Regions from separate parts of the Homo sapiens genome. Here all the other regions are reported to be linked to region 5. Evidence: microRNA targets listed by miRTarBase, many of them from high-throughput screens and not tested one by one. Region 5 holds a microRNA gene; each other region holds the end of a gene's coding sequence.
The links. Region 5 holds the annotated microRNA hsa-miR-1-3p (UGGAAUGUAAAGAAGUAUGUAU, at 2,806-2,827, opposite strand). A microRNA usually pairs through its seed, bases 2 to 8, with sites in the 3' UTR of a target mRNA and lowers its output. Matches are read on the target gene's strand: a 7mer-m8 pairs with bases 2 to 8, a 7mer-A1 pairs with bases 2 to 7 and ends in A, and an 8mer does both.

Region 1: the mRNA of HERC5 is a reported target of hsa-miR-1-3p. The part of its 3' UTR that is shown has no 7-base or 8-base seed match.
Region 2: the mRNA of USP33 is a reported target of hsa-miR-1-3p. Seed matches in the 3' UTR shown: 7mer-m8 at 2,390-2,396.
Region 3: miRTarBase lists PWP1 as a target of hsa-miR-1-3p. Seed matches in the 3' UTR shown: 7mer-m8 at 2,650-2,656.
Region 4: miRTarBase lists ZNF215 as a target of hsa-miR-1-3p. Seed matches in the 3' UTR shown: 7mer-m8 at 1,757-1,763.

Annotation. Positions count from the first base shown.
Region 1 is chr4:88,505,509-88,508,508 of GRCh38, reverse strand. It overlaps HERC5 (HECT and RLD domain containing E3 ubiquitin protein ligase 5), which reads right to left. Exons shown (of 23, transcript NM_016323.4): 23 at 2,346-2,836. The coding sequence ends at 2,631. It also overlaps the pseudogene NCOA4P2. Among named protein-coding and RNA genes, the nearest start is that of PIGY, 17 kb to the left of the region's middle.
Region 2 is chr1:77,694,854-77,697,853 of GRCh38, forward strand. USP33 (ubiquitin specific peptidase 33) reads right to left here. Exons shown (of 24, transcript NM_201624.3): 24 at 1,134-2,621. The coding sequence ends at 2,464. Among named protein-coding and RNA genes, the nearest start is that of ZZZ3, 14 kb to the left of the region's middle.
Region 3 is chr12:107,711,995-107,714,994 of GRCh38, reverse strand. PWP1 (PWP1 homolog, endonuclein) reads right to left here. Exons shown (of 15, transcript NM_007062.3): 15 at 1,833-2,884. The coding sequence ends at 2,775. LOC124903010 (a long non-coding RNA gene) reads left to right here. Exons shown (of 2, transcript XR_007063446.1): 2 at 2,565-2,613. Among named protein-coding and RNA genes, the nearest start is that of PRDM4-AS1, 23 kb to the left of the region's middle.
Region 4 is chr11:6,956,182-6,959,181 of GRCh38, forward strand. ZNF215 (zinc finger protein 215) reads left to right here. Exons shown (of 7, transcript NM_013250.4): 7 at 1-1,866. The coding sequence ends at 350. It overlaps LOC102724711 (a long non-coding RNA gene), which reads right to left. Exons shown (of 3, transcript XR_002957236.2): 2 at 60-346. Among named protein-coding and RNA genes, the nearest start is that of ZNF215, 31 kb to the left of the region's middle.
Region 5 is chr18:21,826,210-21,830,552 of GRCh38, forward strand. MIR1-2 (microRNA 1-2) reads right to left here and starts at 2,879; the gene lies at 2,795-2,879. All of the region lies in intron 12 of MIB1 (MIB E3 ubiquitin protein ligase 1), which reads left to right. MIR133A1HG (MIR133A1 host gene) reads right to left here. Exons shown (of 3, transcript NR_110369.1): 3 at 1-3,243.

The DNA.
Region 1 (3,000 bases), not on the chromosome of region 5:
TGTTTCTGGGTCCGACCAGTTAGCTTAGTCCCTTTCCTGCCTAAATTTGAACTAGTGAAGAAAAATACATCATCGGATTATGAGTTACTATTTAAACAAAAAATGCTGAGGTGACTCAGTTCTTTCCTTTTTACAGAAGTATTAATTCACCCCACACTAGAAATGTAGCACCTTGGTGGAGTTTTTCACAAGCCTCCCACACTCCTTAGATTGGGTTATTACTAAAAGTACATTAAAACACTGTAGTTTTAAAAAGAAGTATTTCTGTAATTGAAGTGTATTGTATTCTAAAGCTAGTAAACTTCCCTAACTTTTAATTGTTCTTTAGCTGCTTCTCTTGCTGTTTTCTTCTATTAGAGGCTGAAATAATTTTTCTCTTCTATTAATATATATTTTGCACAAAAAATTAATCCTGCCATTAGTGATTACCAAAACATGTACTAATAATCTTGGTAATTTTTGACACTAATTACCAAACATTTTAGCCTACATATTAGTTTTACATCATTTTTCTTCTTCACTTGAAAGAAACTGAGCTACTGCAATGTTTTTCTTTATTCCTTTTTCTAAATCAAACTTGTCCAACCCATGGCCCACAGGCCCCAGGATGGCTTTGAATGTAGCCCAACACAAATTTGTAAATTTTCTTAAAACATTATGAGATTTTTTTTTTTAGCTCATCAACTATTATTAGTGTATTTTATGTGTGGCCCAAGACAATTCTTCTTCTTCCCATGTGGCCCAGGGAAGCCAAAAGATTGGACATCCCTGCTTTAAATGTTATTAGAGTATCCAGTATTTAGTATCCTTCTAAAAGTATCCCTCTTTTAGAAGGGCTCTGTATTAAGACCATTTTCAAGGTAGTTTTAGACTCTTTTCAAAATATTCTATAGATCTACATAGGGTTTAAAAGAGCCCCAGTGCTGACTAAGAGCAAATAGGTAAGACACGTTAGAAATGTAGTGTAGTACTTGAACCACTCACTATCCTAGGGATTACTGGTGTATCCTCTGTAAATGGAAGCTGAACTTGACCCCTGGTGCTTTTAACTAGGGATAAAGTTGTGCTCTCACTGTAGGCACAGCATTTCTGTACCTCCAAAAGTACAATGCAGCAACATTTTAGTAAACAGGCTGCTTACAACACTTGTACCTTGGGGTGTTCATTGAAGCTTTATGAAAACCGATGTTTTCTCAGTATCTTTAAACTCATGTCCATGCTTTAAAAAGTCTCCAGGAGAGAAATGGGGTTTATAATGTTTTAAAATTCTCTAAGATATCTTCACCGCTTTCCAGACTTTGAAACTATGAAGTTTCTCAAATGCCTATGTTATTGGAAATACTTTTGGGAAAATGTCATGGTCCCACAATGTCATTGTCATACAGCTTTACTAAAGTTCTTTGAACCACAGCTGAAAAGAGCTTTGTATTATTCCTTAAGCCCCACCCAGATTATCATTTAGAACTATTATAATAATAAAGATGACGGGTAAAAAAAACTTAAGGACGGCTGGACACAGTGGCTCACGCCTGTAAGCCCAGCACTTTGGGAGGCTAAGGCCGGCGCATGACCTGAGGTGGGAAGTTTGAGACCAGCCTGACCAACATGGAGAAACTCTGTCTCTACTAAAAATACAAAATTAGCTGGGCGTGGGGGTGCATGCCTGTAATCCCAGCTACTTGGGAGGCTGAGGTAGGAGAGTCACTTGAACCCAGGAGGTGGAGGTTGCGATGAGCCGAGACAGCGCCATTGCACTCCAGCCTGGGCAACAAGAGTGAAACTGTCTCAAAAAAAAGAAAAAAGAAAAAAAAAAACCTACGGAGTCTTTCCAGTATCTTCAGTTGCAGCTAACTTTGTAGTTTCTTTTTGGGGCCTAACACACTGTATTTTACATTATCAAAGTGTAATTTACATTTATCACTATGTTAATGAGTATGTACAACATTCTTTTGCTTGGATGCATTTTGTACCTAACTCCATTAAAAGCATAACAGCATTTAAATAAAAAAGCTTCCTCAGAAGCTTCTCCCAATAACTGTCACCACTGCCACCTGTCCCTACCTTGAAGAGAGGCTGGGAAATGTATGATTTTAAGACTGAGAACAATGCCACTCCTACCATATAGGGAATCTGTACTGAAAGAAGGGGAGAACAGATATTGGGTAGATAATTACAAGTTTTTTAAAAAAACTTCTAAGGTAAAGAGTATCCCTTCAGGCCAAGTCATGCAAACATTGTGTGAGAGACACAGCTTAATCTATATTATAATTGATATATCTTACATGCAATGATAGCAATTCCAAAAGAGCTGGTAAACACATTGAATAGTGAATAAGACTTTTATGTTAATTTTTCGGTTATTTTATTTTTGAAAAATATTTCCCAAAAGAGGTAAGGAATATGATGTAGGCATAGGGGTATCCAAGGGAGAGAATACAGTCACGGGTTCTAACCGGCCAGTAAACCCTCTTCTTCATCCCTCTTTCCTGCTTATCACTAGAGACAGAAATGAAAAACCATGGCTTCAGGCTGCTAAAAGCCTAAAACAAAACAAAGTAGAGAAACAACAACAACAACAACAACAACAACGATAACAACAACAAAATAAGGCTGTTGGACAAGCAAGCTGGTCAGCCAAATCCTCTGTTGTTGTTGATGGCTTCTTGAAGCGCTTCTTCAACTGTTTCCATTGTAGAATATTTAGGGAGGAAGAGGACACTGAAACATGTCAGTGCTCTTATAGGGTCTCTTTCATTCCAACTTTCAGGACAGCAAAATGTTATTTTCATATTATTTAAATCTTTCATTTGTAGTCTGTCAGTTCCTGTAAGAAATACTAAAAAGAAGAATAAAATTAGGCAATCTGTTTTACATGGAGACCAAAATCTCTTTACAGAGAAAAAAATCTATTTATTCACAAAACTTCACTGGAGCCCATGTGCAGTGTCCTACATTTGACAGTGCATTGGGGATTGTATTCGAACAATGTCTGACACATAG
Region 2 (3,000 bases), not on the chromosome of region 5:
GAAATAACTTTAGTAAAATGACTGAAACATTCTAAGTTTCAATAAATAACAATCATTAAAATCAAATCTTTTTTGACTAACCACTAAATACTAGACAATACACTAAATTCTGGTGATTCACAAAAAATCAGTAACATTCAGACCTTGAGGAAGATCATATTTTACTATAGTAGAATCATATTTTACTATATATTTTTTAAAACTTCAAATAGATCTTAAATGGCTGCTTATTAAAATTCATTTCATTAAACATCAAAATTTTACTACACTGATTACCAGCCCAAGCAATAAAGTCAGACTTTACAAAAAATAAAACAAATTATCCAGGTGTGGTGGTGCACACCTGTGGTCTCAGGTACTCAGGAGGCTGAGGTGGGAGGATCGCTTGATCCCAGGAGATGGAGACTGCAGTGAGCTGTATTCAACGCCAGGCACTCCAGTCTGGGTGACAGAGCTCGAGAGACCCTGTCTAAAAAAAAAATAAAATAATAAATAAAAACCAACTTTACTAGACTGAATGACTTGTTTGCATACTTCTGATTAAGAAATAACAAGAGGCCGGGTGCAGTGATTCACACCTATAACCCCAGCTTTTTGGGAGGCCGAGGTGGCTGGATCACTTCAGCCCAGGAGTTTGAAACCAGCCTGAGCAAAATAGCAAAACCCCATCTCTACCAAAAAAAGAGATAAAAATTAGCCAGTCTCATAACCCAGTCTCAAAATAAATAAAAATTTTAAAATAAACTGGCTGGGCACAGTGGCTCACACCTGTAATCTCAACATTTTCGGAAGCCAAGGCAGGTGGATCACCTGAGGTCAGGAGTTTGAAACTAGCCCAGCCAACATGGTGAAACCCCATCTCTACTAAAAATACAAAAATTAGCTGGGTGTGGTGGCTCATACCTGTAATCCCAGCTACTTGGGAGGCTGAGGCAGGAGAATCACTTGAACCTGGGAGGCGGAGGTTGCAGTGAGCCAAGACTGTGACACTGCATTCCAGCCTGGGAAAGGGTGAGACTCTGTCTCAAAAGAATAGATAAATAAAATAAAATAGGAACAGCAAGAAGGTATTAATATTAACAAACTTTGCACCTTTTACCTTTAACATCTATCAAATAAATTCAACATTCAAGTTTTACATTTTAAAGACATTTTTATTGAGCTAATTTTAACAACATTGCTTTAGCTGGTGACAGCTGCCCCAAACCAAAACAAAGCCATCATGAATGCTATTCAACATCCTCAATGTAATCCAGTATGTTTTTGTACTTGGAATATAGTTAAACTTTTGACATTACATAATCAAGCAAATAGCAGTGCATACTATATTATTCAAAAAGACTTTATCTATTTCATTTAAAAAATCAAGTTGCAAGTGGCCTCAGCTTTATCAACAATCGTAGTGACACATTCCACACTTCATGCTCTCAAAATAAAAAGTGCCCTAAAACTAACTCTAAGTTTTTTAGTCACTGACATTAATACTAACCAGGTTACAGGAATTGAAGTTTAACATTGTACAATATAAGCGGCAATAAGTTACTGATATCTGCTGACAAATTCCACTCAAACTAAATATATCCTTGATACATTCAAAAAGACATTTTGTAAATTTTAATAAGCTAGTTAGTGTATATGCTGCAGTGCAAAAAAAGTGACACCCTAGTTTCCTGAGCTTTAGGAAATTAACAATTTTCTGACTACTACTTTCAACTTAAAATAGGCTCTTTATTATATGAAGCCATGACAAAACTATACAATTAAATTGGGCTTTTGGAGAACTGAAAGACTGGTCAGAGTCAGGGTGATTTAGGACAATGAAAAAGTTTTCAAAGCAAAAGTATTTACAACACTACAAAGGATACTATGGATCTGCATGTAGTGTAAAGATTAAAGATAACCTACTGATTTCACAATTGTCCCTCCTCTTTCAAAAATATTACACTGGGCCAGGCGCTGTGGCTCACACCTGTAATCCCAGCACTTTGGGAGGCCGAGGTGGGTGGATCACCTGAGGTCAGGAGTTTGAGACTAGCCTGGCCAACATGGTGAAACCCCATCTCTACTAAAATACAAAAATTAGCCGGGCATGGTGGCAGGTGCCTGTAATCCCAGCTACTCGAGAGGCTGAGGCAGGAGAATCGCTTGAACCCAGGAGGTGGAGGCTGCAGTGAGCTGAGGTAACACCACAGCACTCCAGCCTGGGTGACAAAGCAAGACTCTGTCTCAAAAAAAAATTACACTGAAAGACTTTATGGTAAGTATTTAAAACTAAATATACCAACCTGTGGTATATTACACATTTTAATATATTCTTCCATAATGCCCACTAAGAAGAAATAAATGGGATAAATGATGAAAAAAAATAAAGCAAATAAACACGCTTTTAGGAATGTTTTCGCATGTGTACATGTCAGGGCACATGAAAATGATTCCTCATTAGAACTCTCTACATCCTAAAAATTACAAAGACCGAGTTTCTACTTCAATTTTTTCTTCTGCTTGAAGTATATCTGGATCAACATGAACAACCGGAGGTCGCAGGATAACTTCAGGCCCTCCACCATAAATAGACTGCAGAAAATTCCATGTTTCTTCAGAAATCTGGCCAGAATCTGCTCCTTAAAATTACGTAGAAGAAATAATGTTTACAAACCTATATATTCATATTGCAAAAGCGTTCATAATGTACCCCCCAGCATGAATCTTCTCGGGATAATTGAGAACTTCTGGAACATGAATCTGCAGACTACCAGCCCATATTGTTATAAGCTGAAACATATGGCTTGTCTTAAAAAGTCAGAGATGCTTTTGCTTTGCTCTTAACAACAGCCTTAAGACCTTTCCTCAGATAAAAAAAAAGTGGCTGCTTTTCATTACTTGCCCTAGTTAATGTATGGATTACATTCTTCAGTTGAATAAAAAAGTACTATAGATGACTAATGATAACATATTTCTAACAGTGACAAATCACTCACAAGTAAAAGCTTAAATACGAGT
Region 3 (3,000 bases), not on the chromosome of region 5:
GTTCAGCTTTTGCTTAAGCTATACTGTCACATCTAGAAATGGAAGTATGAAACAAGTTGTTTTTGAAACAAAATCTGGCTATTTGTTCTGACAGGATGTTTTAAAAGTACTTACTTTGAAAAGACCTCCCTTGGCTGGGCACGGTGGCTCATGCCTGTAATCCCAGCACTCTGGGAGGCGAGGCAGGCGATCACCTGAGGTCAGGAGTTTGAGACCAGCCTGGCCAACATGGTGAAGCCCCATCTCCACTAAAAATACAAAAATTAGCTGGGCATGGTGGCACATGCCTGTAATCCCAGCTACTCAGGAGGCTGAGACAGGAGAATCATTCGAACCCGGGAGGCGGAGGTTGCAGTGAGCCGAGACCATGCCATTGCACTCCAGCCTGGGCAACTCAACACTCAGTCTAAAAAAACAAAAACAAAAAACAAACAAAAACCTCCTCCACCTAAAAGAGTATGTAAGAGTATAGCATACATTTCATATACCACCTTTACTGAAAAGAGCTTCATAAGATGTAGTTTGGGTTGTCCTGAAAAATTGAGGCCTTTAAGTTCTACCTGTATAATGCTCATAGAATATAGTATCATAGAAGTTGATATTTCTACTTTATAAACAGTGGGTTTTGCAGAATCTGAATTCCCAGATATAATTAGCTGGCACCTGCCTACATCTGGGTAATTATTTTTTGAGACGGAGTTTCACTCCTGTTGCCCAGGCTGGAGTGCAATGGCATGGTCTTGGCTCACTGCAATCTCCGCCTCCCAGGTTCAACTGATCCTCCTGCGTCAGTCTCCCAAGTAGCTGGGATTAACAGGCACCCACCACCATGCCCAGCTAATTTTTGTATTTTTAGTTGAGGCGGGGTTTTACCATGTTGGCCAGGCTGGTCTTGGACTCCTGACCTCGGGTGACCTGCCCACCTTGGCCTCCCAAAGTGCTGGGATTACAGGCTTGAGCCACCGTGCCCAGCCATCTGGGTAAAATTGTTTAAAAGTTAGTATCGGGTTTTCACTTTGACAAATATGTTTGGCTCCATGGCATTTCCATGTGCTATGTAATGAAAACACCAGTCACCAACAAACTACCAGTGGTGAAAATGTTACCTGTCATTCCCCCACTTTCTATGGTAGACAGGCATTCTAAGCCACACATCTTTGGGCTCAGATCTACCCACACTTAGGTGCAAAATGTACCCACGGTGGGAAGTGATGTGGAACCCTTTCCTCAGTCAGTATGACACAATCGAGCCTCCTTTTACATTTATAATCTGGGCTTGGATTTTAATCCCCATCTTACCTAGTTCCCACAGCTTGACTACCCCTATTGCCTGTCTACTCAGATGTCTTACCCACTGCCTGCACTGTCTTTTAGCAGTAACTGCAGGTCCCGGCCAGCACTCTTCTGGTCCCAGGTGCTCAGATCTGCTCTAACCAGCTACTTCAGAGGCACATTCTTTTGGCTCAGAAAACACCCCATGCTTAGCATTCATCGCACTAGCACTTTCAAGTTGGAAACAGAGGTGTCAACCCATTTACCATTTGAAAATTTTGGTATTTATTAAATACAAATTCTTATTTTAGGCAGACCTATATGACTACATAAAGCAGTAGAAGTTATTTTTTATACGTAACTAGGTCTTTTCCTGAGAATGGAAAGTCCTGGGAAGATGCCTATTTTAGAGTTATTCTTTATAGAAGAAAACATCAAATTTCAGAGAGAATTAACTGACTTTAAATCTATTAGAGGTCTCCCTCTGTTACTAATTTTTAGTGATCTGGGCCTTATTTTAATACCTAAAAGCCAAATCAAAACAAAGAAACAGAATACTCTATCCTTTAATCTCTTTAATTCACACATCTGTCTTTTGTATAAAAAGGTGTTTTGGTGAACCCACGTTGCTACACCAATGACATTCCACAGTATTAACACTAGAATGACTGAAGTCACATTCATGAAATATACAGGAAATATCAATGGTTCATGAACTGATTACTCTTCTGGCAAGTTAGGGTTGGGTCTCATATTATCAAACTAATTACGATTTTTAATGCCTACTAAAACTCATACTTAATAGGAAGACAATCTATAATTAAAACTGTCCCTTGTTAGGTGGAGAGCAAAGACTTATTCACACTGAATCTCCCATGCCTTGTATAGCACTAGGCACAGAATGGCATTCAGTGTTTTGAGAATGAATGAATGGTCTGCCTCTTGTCTTTGATAACAGTGAATATCATGCTAGGAAAACAGGGGCATGTAACTTTTACTTATCAAACTCTACGAGTTGCACTGAGAATACTCAATCATGAGCATTAATTTGAGAACAGTTAGGAATGAAAGTGGAGTCTCTGGGGCACTTGCCTCTGTTCATGGCCTCCTGTGCAATTTTAGCCAAATAACAGCCTTTCCAGGCCTAGGTTTACCTATCTTTTAATATTACCGGATTTTACGCTTTAAAAATTCTATAAATTACTACCTATTTACAAATCTAGATTAACTGTGACAGATGGTATGTTTAAGGAATTACTTTTTAAAAATCCTTTTTATTACTCTTTTTTAAGAAATGCAACAAGAGCCTTACAAACCATCCATCTGAAGAGCAAGCACAAAGACCGGATATTTGTGGTGCCACCGCAGTTGCAGAAAGGAATGTCAGTCAGAAATGAATTGTGTTTCAGTCACTCTGCATGGTTGCTGCCACGCATGGAACATTTTTAGGCCAACTTTTTAAAATTCCCAGTTAAGGTAAGCAGGAAATTAGATGATCTTCATTAAGACTCCATGGGTGTATCTGAGCTCCTGCTGCCAAAAGGGCCACTAATAGATGAATTTCTTGCACTCCCAAGAACAAGCCTCTCTCGTCTTCCAAATGCTTCATTTACTAAAATACAAATAAACAGGTAAGAAACTAACAGATCAGGAAATTAAGTCAGAATATAAAAAGACACTAAAATGCAGAATTGTGCACTTAGTACTTTATAAATGGTAAAGTGAGTA
Region 4 (3,000 bases), not on the chromosome of region 5:
CAGGAGAGAAACCCTATAAATGCAGTGAATGTGGGAGATTCTTCAACCGACGTACAAACCTTACTAAGCATCAAAAACTTCATGCTGAAGCAAAGGCCTGCACAAGCAATAAATGTGGAAAGGCCTTCAGTAAAAGTGAAGACAGTAATAATCCAACACTCCATTTTGGAAACAATTTCTATCAATGTGTTAACTGTGGAAAATCCTTCAACCGGAGCTCCTCTCTTATTCGACACCAAATGATTCACACGGGAGAGAAACCATTCAAATGTAAGGAATGTAGTAAAGCCTTCAACAGGAGTTCAAACCTTGTTAAACATCAAAAACTGCATACTCGAGATAAGTCCTGAAAAAAGAAAAAATGAAAGATTACCTTCAGTCAGAATGCAGAACTCATTTAACATCATGAATTTATGCTGGATAAAATCTCATGAATATAATGTAAGAAAACATTTGTCAGATTTTTCTTTAAATGATATCACAGAATTAATGTTGGATAGAAATATCATTGGATAGAAATCTGTTTGAAGGAATTTTCCTGGTTTTCAGATGAAGCCATAAGGCTTTGGAGTTAAACCACAGTATCACCATACAAGTATTTGTTTATCATTATTTTGATATCCATTACCCTCACCTCTCCCTAGTTCATAAATAGGTCTATAGCATACTAATATCCACCTGATTTATTGACGAAGTAGACATTAGGCAAAGCCAAACAATACTCTTGGAGTTGATATTTAATAAAACTCAGCCCTTTTAAGAAGGTCACAAGAAATCATTAGCTCATGCGAATATAAGAGAATACTTCTAAGGACAGAAATCTCTGAATCAATGGCTAAGACAACAGTAACAGCCATTTACTCCACTCCTGACAATACCCTTTGTTGTCTTGCTGTTGAATGGAGACTAGAGTTGGGAAAGGGTTATCAACTGCAATGGGAGAAGTATGTATTGCTGTTAATCTATATGTATTCTTAAAATCTGCATTTGTTTATAGCAGGTCCTTGAAAAATGTTTTTGTTTTGTTATAATGTTATAATTGTTATGATGTTGATGAGAAAAATATCGATTCCCAGCCAGGGACACTGTGTGGAGTTCGCACACTCTCCCTATGTCTCCGGGTGCTCCAGTTTCAAACCCCAAAGATGTATACATTAGGTTAATTGACATATCTAAATTATCTCAGTCTGAGTTTGTGAGGAAGTGTGCCCTGCAGTGGAATGGCTCCTAATCAGGGTTTGTTCCCACCATTGCCCTGAGCTGCTAGGATGCGCTCTGTCCACCCATGGCCCTGTACTGGAATAACAGGGTAAATAATTATCTTATCTGTTTTTATTAATCCGTCTTAAATGTGTATATAGCTCAGATTTATTTTAATGTCTGATATTGGAAGCGTTTGGGGTCTTTAGAAGTTTGATGATGTTGTGACCAGACATTTGCCTTAGGAACTTAACTCTTGTTTGTATCCATTAGTCTATGGTAAAATTGGTTTTGTTATACATCATTTCACTTAAAGTTGCAGTTCCTAAGAACCTATTGATGATGTTCAGTGCAGACTTACTGTACCTTTGGGAATTTAGGCTGGAGAGACGTCCATAGCCTTAGGTATATCATTTATACCAGACATTATGAAGTTATTAAAGTCTCCTATACTCTGTACACCAGAACTGTGTCTTCTGTAAACTACCTCAGGATCCCATCTGGTTCTTGAGCCAAGAAGTATGACTTAATCTGCCCCAAAAAATTCACACTGGAGACATTCCCAATTAATGATGATGGTAGCTTTTTGTGAAGGTTCATACCTTATTCAAAGGCAGAAAAGGTATACTGGAGTGAACTCCTATGATTAAATAATGTCAAAATCTATGTTTGTTCATCCTTTATATTGCAACACAAGTTTTATTAGGACAAAGCCCTACATAAGTAATTGATATAGAAATTCGTATAAACAAGAGATAACTTGTAGAGAAGCCTAACAAGAGAAAAGCACTCTGAATGTAAAAAATTCTTGAGGTATGTTCATTCATCATAGTACTTACATTAAATACAATGGATTCTGACTTTTTAAATTTAGGTATTCCAAGTCCAATATTTCAATTTTTGAAAATAAGCTGTGATTTTCTTTTGGATGGTTGAAAGATAGAAGTACTATTTTCACTCTTTATCTTTTCTTTGAACAACTAGCTATTTGAGCCTAAGTAAAATACTTATTTTTTTCTCCTAAATCTCCAAGCTTTCTTAAAAAAGTGTTTACTATGTTCACTAAGTTTAACATAACATAGTTTCAAATAATAATTTTTGGAGTGCATTTAAAGCTCTTGCAGAGCATTTATAGCCAATTAACATCTTCTCGCAGCCTTGTTTCACAAGCCTGTTTATTTAGTACATTGTATTAGCGTTCTCTAGAGGGACAGAACCAATAGGATAAATGTATATATAAAGGGGAGTTTATTAAGGAGTATTGATTTACACTGTCACAAAGTGAGGTCCCACAATAGGCTGCCTGCAAGCTGAGGAGCAAGGAAGCCAAGTCCCAATTTTACATAAGAGTCCAAGTCCCAAAACCTCAAAAGTAGGGAAGCTGACAGCGCAGCCTTCAGTCTGTGGTTGAAGGTCCAAGAGTCCCAAAGCTGAACTCGGAGTCTGATGTTCAAGGGTAGGAAGCATCCGGAACTGGACGAAGTAGTAGGCTGGAAGACTAAGCCAGTCTAGTCGTTCCAATTTCTCCTGCCTTTTATTTTGGCCACACTGGCAGCTGATTAGATTGTGTCCACCCAGATTGAGGGTCGGTCTGCCTTTCCCAGTCCACTGACTCAAATGTTAATCTCCTTTGGCAACACCCTCACAGTCACACTCGGGAACAATACTTTGCATCCTTCAATCCAATCAAGTTGGCACTCAATATTAATCATCACATATTTGAGTTTTACTATATACCATCAAAGGTCGATATCTAAGCTGAAACATGAAGAGTGTAGATTAACCAGATTGTGTCTGGCA
Region 5 (4,343 bases):
TGGGGAAGAGTTCAGTTAGTCACCCCCTTCTACTGCCACTGCTTCTTTTAGCATTATAGTTGAGGGCTAATAGCAAATTGTTGATGGGTGTAGGAATATCAGTGGCCTTAAGAAAGTACCTCTGCCCTTTGATTTATAAATAGATCACATGTGTATTCAGTGTATTGCTTGGACTTGTGTCGAAAGGAACTACCATGCATGCCAGTTTTTCTTTGTTTTTGCTTACGTGGTGTTACTAATCATAGCTTAGTAATTTAACCCTTTTAAAGGTCTATTTCCTTGACTAAGTTCTTTGTCATTTTGGGTACAGATTGCCAAGTTACTTCTCATTATCGCCTTAGTAATACATGGTGGTTAGTTACAATCCATGGATACAAGTATTAAAATCTATTGTGTGGATAATACTTGAAAAATCAGAGTAAATTTTTGTTATAATGTGGTTTTACTGTTGATTTCAATGTCTTGAGAGGGGTGTCTTCTTGCATAAAATAAAAGTTTGATAAATTATAATTTGCCTATAAAGTTAAGTGCTCTCAGAGAAATATAGAGTAGAGAAATATTCTTTACAGTTACTATTTTAAACTGAGAGGTCAACGCTAATTCAGGCAGTATGCAAATGACTCTTACACTAAGTATATTCTGCGTCTGTTGGTTGGTAAGTATCATACTGCTGGTGAAATTAACTACAATTCTTTTTCATCATTTTTTCTAGTAGAAGTGAAACAGGTGTTAAACTGCCTAAACTTAAGTGCTGAAGATAGCAATAATACTGGCTTCTATTTTTACTAGTTATATGGGAGCTGTTTAGCAGATCCAGTTGCTCAAGTGTGTTTTTGGATGGCAGTTCAGTTTCATATACTGGCCATATCGGGGCAAGGAGAGGCCATGGGAAAAAAATAGTACAGCATTTGATAATGTCAGCATCTGTTATCCCTGTCAGGGAGACAGTTGAAATGTTTGAGTTATACCAGTGTCAGCAGATGCCCAGAGTTTAATATGTACTCAGTTAAAAATGAACAGCTGATCTAAGTGATAGATGTGACATTTTAGAGTGATTGAAAATACTCTTAGATAAGTTAAACTCGCAAGCACCAGAATCAGCATATAATTTTACTTTTAAAAATGAATAGCCTGTCATTTTATTTTCTAAGGATTATTTATATAGTCTTAATATTATAGCAAAGAGAGTCTTAGTTGCTAGGATGTTTGAGAAGGATTATTAAACAACTTGTATACCTATAGAATGACCAATATAACTGTTTATTATAAAACACAAGTAGAGTAATAAGCTTTGAGTATTTTTATAGAAGAACCTCTACTTTTGAGGTATATATTTTGAGTTCTTGGTATTTAGGACCTATACAGGTAAACTTACCAAATAGAACATGAATCATTGCCATTCTGTTTTGTGGATGATCAGAAGGGCTATGCTTATGTGAGTTAAGCTTTGAACTAATTTCTTTGAAAGTGTAGAATTTTAAAATTATGTGCCTTTTATAATTTCCAGTAAACATGCAGTAACACATATGATGCCATGTGTAAGTCATTCTCATTCTTTATAATCTGATAAAATGAAAATCATCTTTGTATTAACTAGTCTTATTAAACAGAAAATGAACTATAGTTAAACTTAGTCATTTCCATTCAATTTCTGATACAAAAAATTTAAAATATTATGCTTTTATACATGTGTAAATATTTCAGTTGAAATAATACTTTTAGTAAGAAATGGTTAGAATATGTGAATATTACTCTTATTTTCTAACTTTGTCATTAGTAGCTTAAAACAGGTACTGCTTATAAATTTTGCTAAGAGCATTATTTGGAATTTTTTATAAATAATATACAAACTGTGTGAAATAAAAGTATTTTGATATTTCTAAACAATGGATTGATCAAGTTTAGAGAAATTGAATTGTAATTGCATAGTACAATAAAAACAGTTCTTCGATCTGTATAAATTGGTTCTTGACTATAGTGCTTTCATTTTACATGCCCTCTTTGGAGAAAGCAAATTCGAAGATAATACAGATAAATTAATTTCTTTTAAATATTTGGTAGTCTGTTACCAATATACCCTGCTGACTTACAGCTGTGGACCAGAATTTTGTCATTTTTCATGCTTAAATCTTACATTTTAATTAATTTTAAGTTTTAACTTCACATTTAAAGTAGAGATTTGGGTTAAGACCCTGATAAACTTGAGAAGGAAGGACAAGGGCCACTATGTTTGTAGCTGTCAAAAAAGAAAGCCTTTTTAAAACAACAAAACTTTTGGTCAGAAATTCCTCTAATATTAATTATACATTTATCAAAATGAGAAGAAATAGCTTATTATGTGAATGAAGCCAGCTCTTAGTATCTTATTTTTCTGTACAAATCAGTGAGCCCTACTAATGAGATATACTTAAGATTAAATTGTGGAGACAGAAAATAGGTCATGTGTATTCCTCATTCTTTTGTGCTAGTAATACTATTTTCCCTTTTGCAGTCAAATTTTAATAATGAGAGTGCCTAATTTAAAAATGTAAGATGTCTGTTTTAAACTTAGATGATTTAAAAGGAGTTTCATGATAATTGAAATCTACTTCACTGGATCTTCTTTTCCTTCATGAAATAAAAACCTTAGGGATAGTTTCTATCTATCAGTAGTAGATAACCTTTTTTTTTTGGTGTTAGTATTGCCAAAGGTCATCTGTTCATGACTAGGTTAATTTACCATATGACGGTCATTCACGTAGAAAGAAGCAAGAGCTTCTTTTAGCTCAGTTTAATTCTCCCTTGGTGGTTTATTGCCTACCAAAAATACATACTTCTTTACATTCCATAGCATTGTATGTTCATATGGGTACATAAAGAAGTATGTACTCTGAGTAGGTATTACTAAGTTGTTAGCTGTAAAAACATGAAATATTTTATTTTCTTATTTGTTAGTGAAACATTCAGCTTACTAATGTAGAGCAATGGTAAATCATTTGCAGAGACTAATTTATCGAAGACTAAATTTTGTAACAAGTTTACCTGAAGCATGGCATTAATGGTTCCATATTCTTGGTGGACATAGACATTCCTAAGCATTTGACCAGTTATCTGTTGAACTTTGTCCTGGTTTGATTCTTTTTGCAAGAGATTCAAAGAATCAGTGTAGTGTTACAGAGTGTATTTCGGAAACTTAAGATCAGCCTAGTGTTTCTTCAGTCTTCAGAGTGAATTTCTTCTTTTTTTGTAGTCTGCTTCTAGATCCTACAGGTAGATAGTAATTAATTAAATTCAATTTTTTTTTTACAAACTAGATATCTTACTCAAAACCTAACAAATTAACCAATAAGTATTTCTGATATTGACTCTAGAAGTTGAAACAACAAGGAGAAAAACCAGGATGAGTGTGGGTGAATTGAACTTTTTTAAAGATTATGAATTTTTGTTAGTGTTTTATAAGGTCACAGATAAGAACTCGTGATCATTTGAAAATTTGTCATTCTTTTTTCTTTATTAGTTCCTTACCTGAAGTTTGCACTTTGATGCTTCTCTTTGGGTTAAATACAAATATGAGTTGAATACAAATTCAAATAGATGTAGAAATATCTAATTTTGGTGAGTTTAAGTTGTTTTGATTCTTTAATCTTTTTAGTATAAAGGATAACTGTCAGAATCGTCAACTTTTAGAAAGTATCACTTCAAAGAACTGAAAGGTTTTAGTCTGTGAGCACCTGGGTTTTATTTACCTTGATAGTTTAGAATGAAAAGAAATTATAGTTGGTAAGTAGCCTTCAGTTATTGTGGTATTAGAAGGTTAATTTAAAACCTCAAGAAATTTTCAGATTTGTCAAAGGAGGAAAAAAAAGGGCAGGGATAGTAGAATTTCTGCAGCTTGTGATAAAAAGCTAGTGCAGCTTATAGAGAGCAAATCAGAATGTAGCAGTAGATAGCCCAGCACTACAGCAGTTTCAGCAATGCAGCATTAGAATTACACCATGCACGTTCTGATTTATTTTTGTGGCCAATTATTAGTAAGCATTAAAAAGTATTTTATGATCTGCCAAGTTTCTTGGTTGACTAAACCTTGAAATAGAAGCTAATAGTTTTAGAAAATAAGTATACTTTGGAAGCAGGATGTGACTTACTAGAGATGCAAAATCATCACTTAATCTGAAACAATAATGACTAAATCTTTAATAATGTAAATGACAATAATGTATTTGTACATTTTTAAGATAAAAAGTTACTGCCATAGTATCTGAACAATATTCCTTTTTACACTACATTAGCTCTTAACTTGAATTGTGAAATTAGGCTATGGTTAGATAGAATTTAATTTAACAATGAGAACATATATTGAGTCA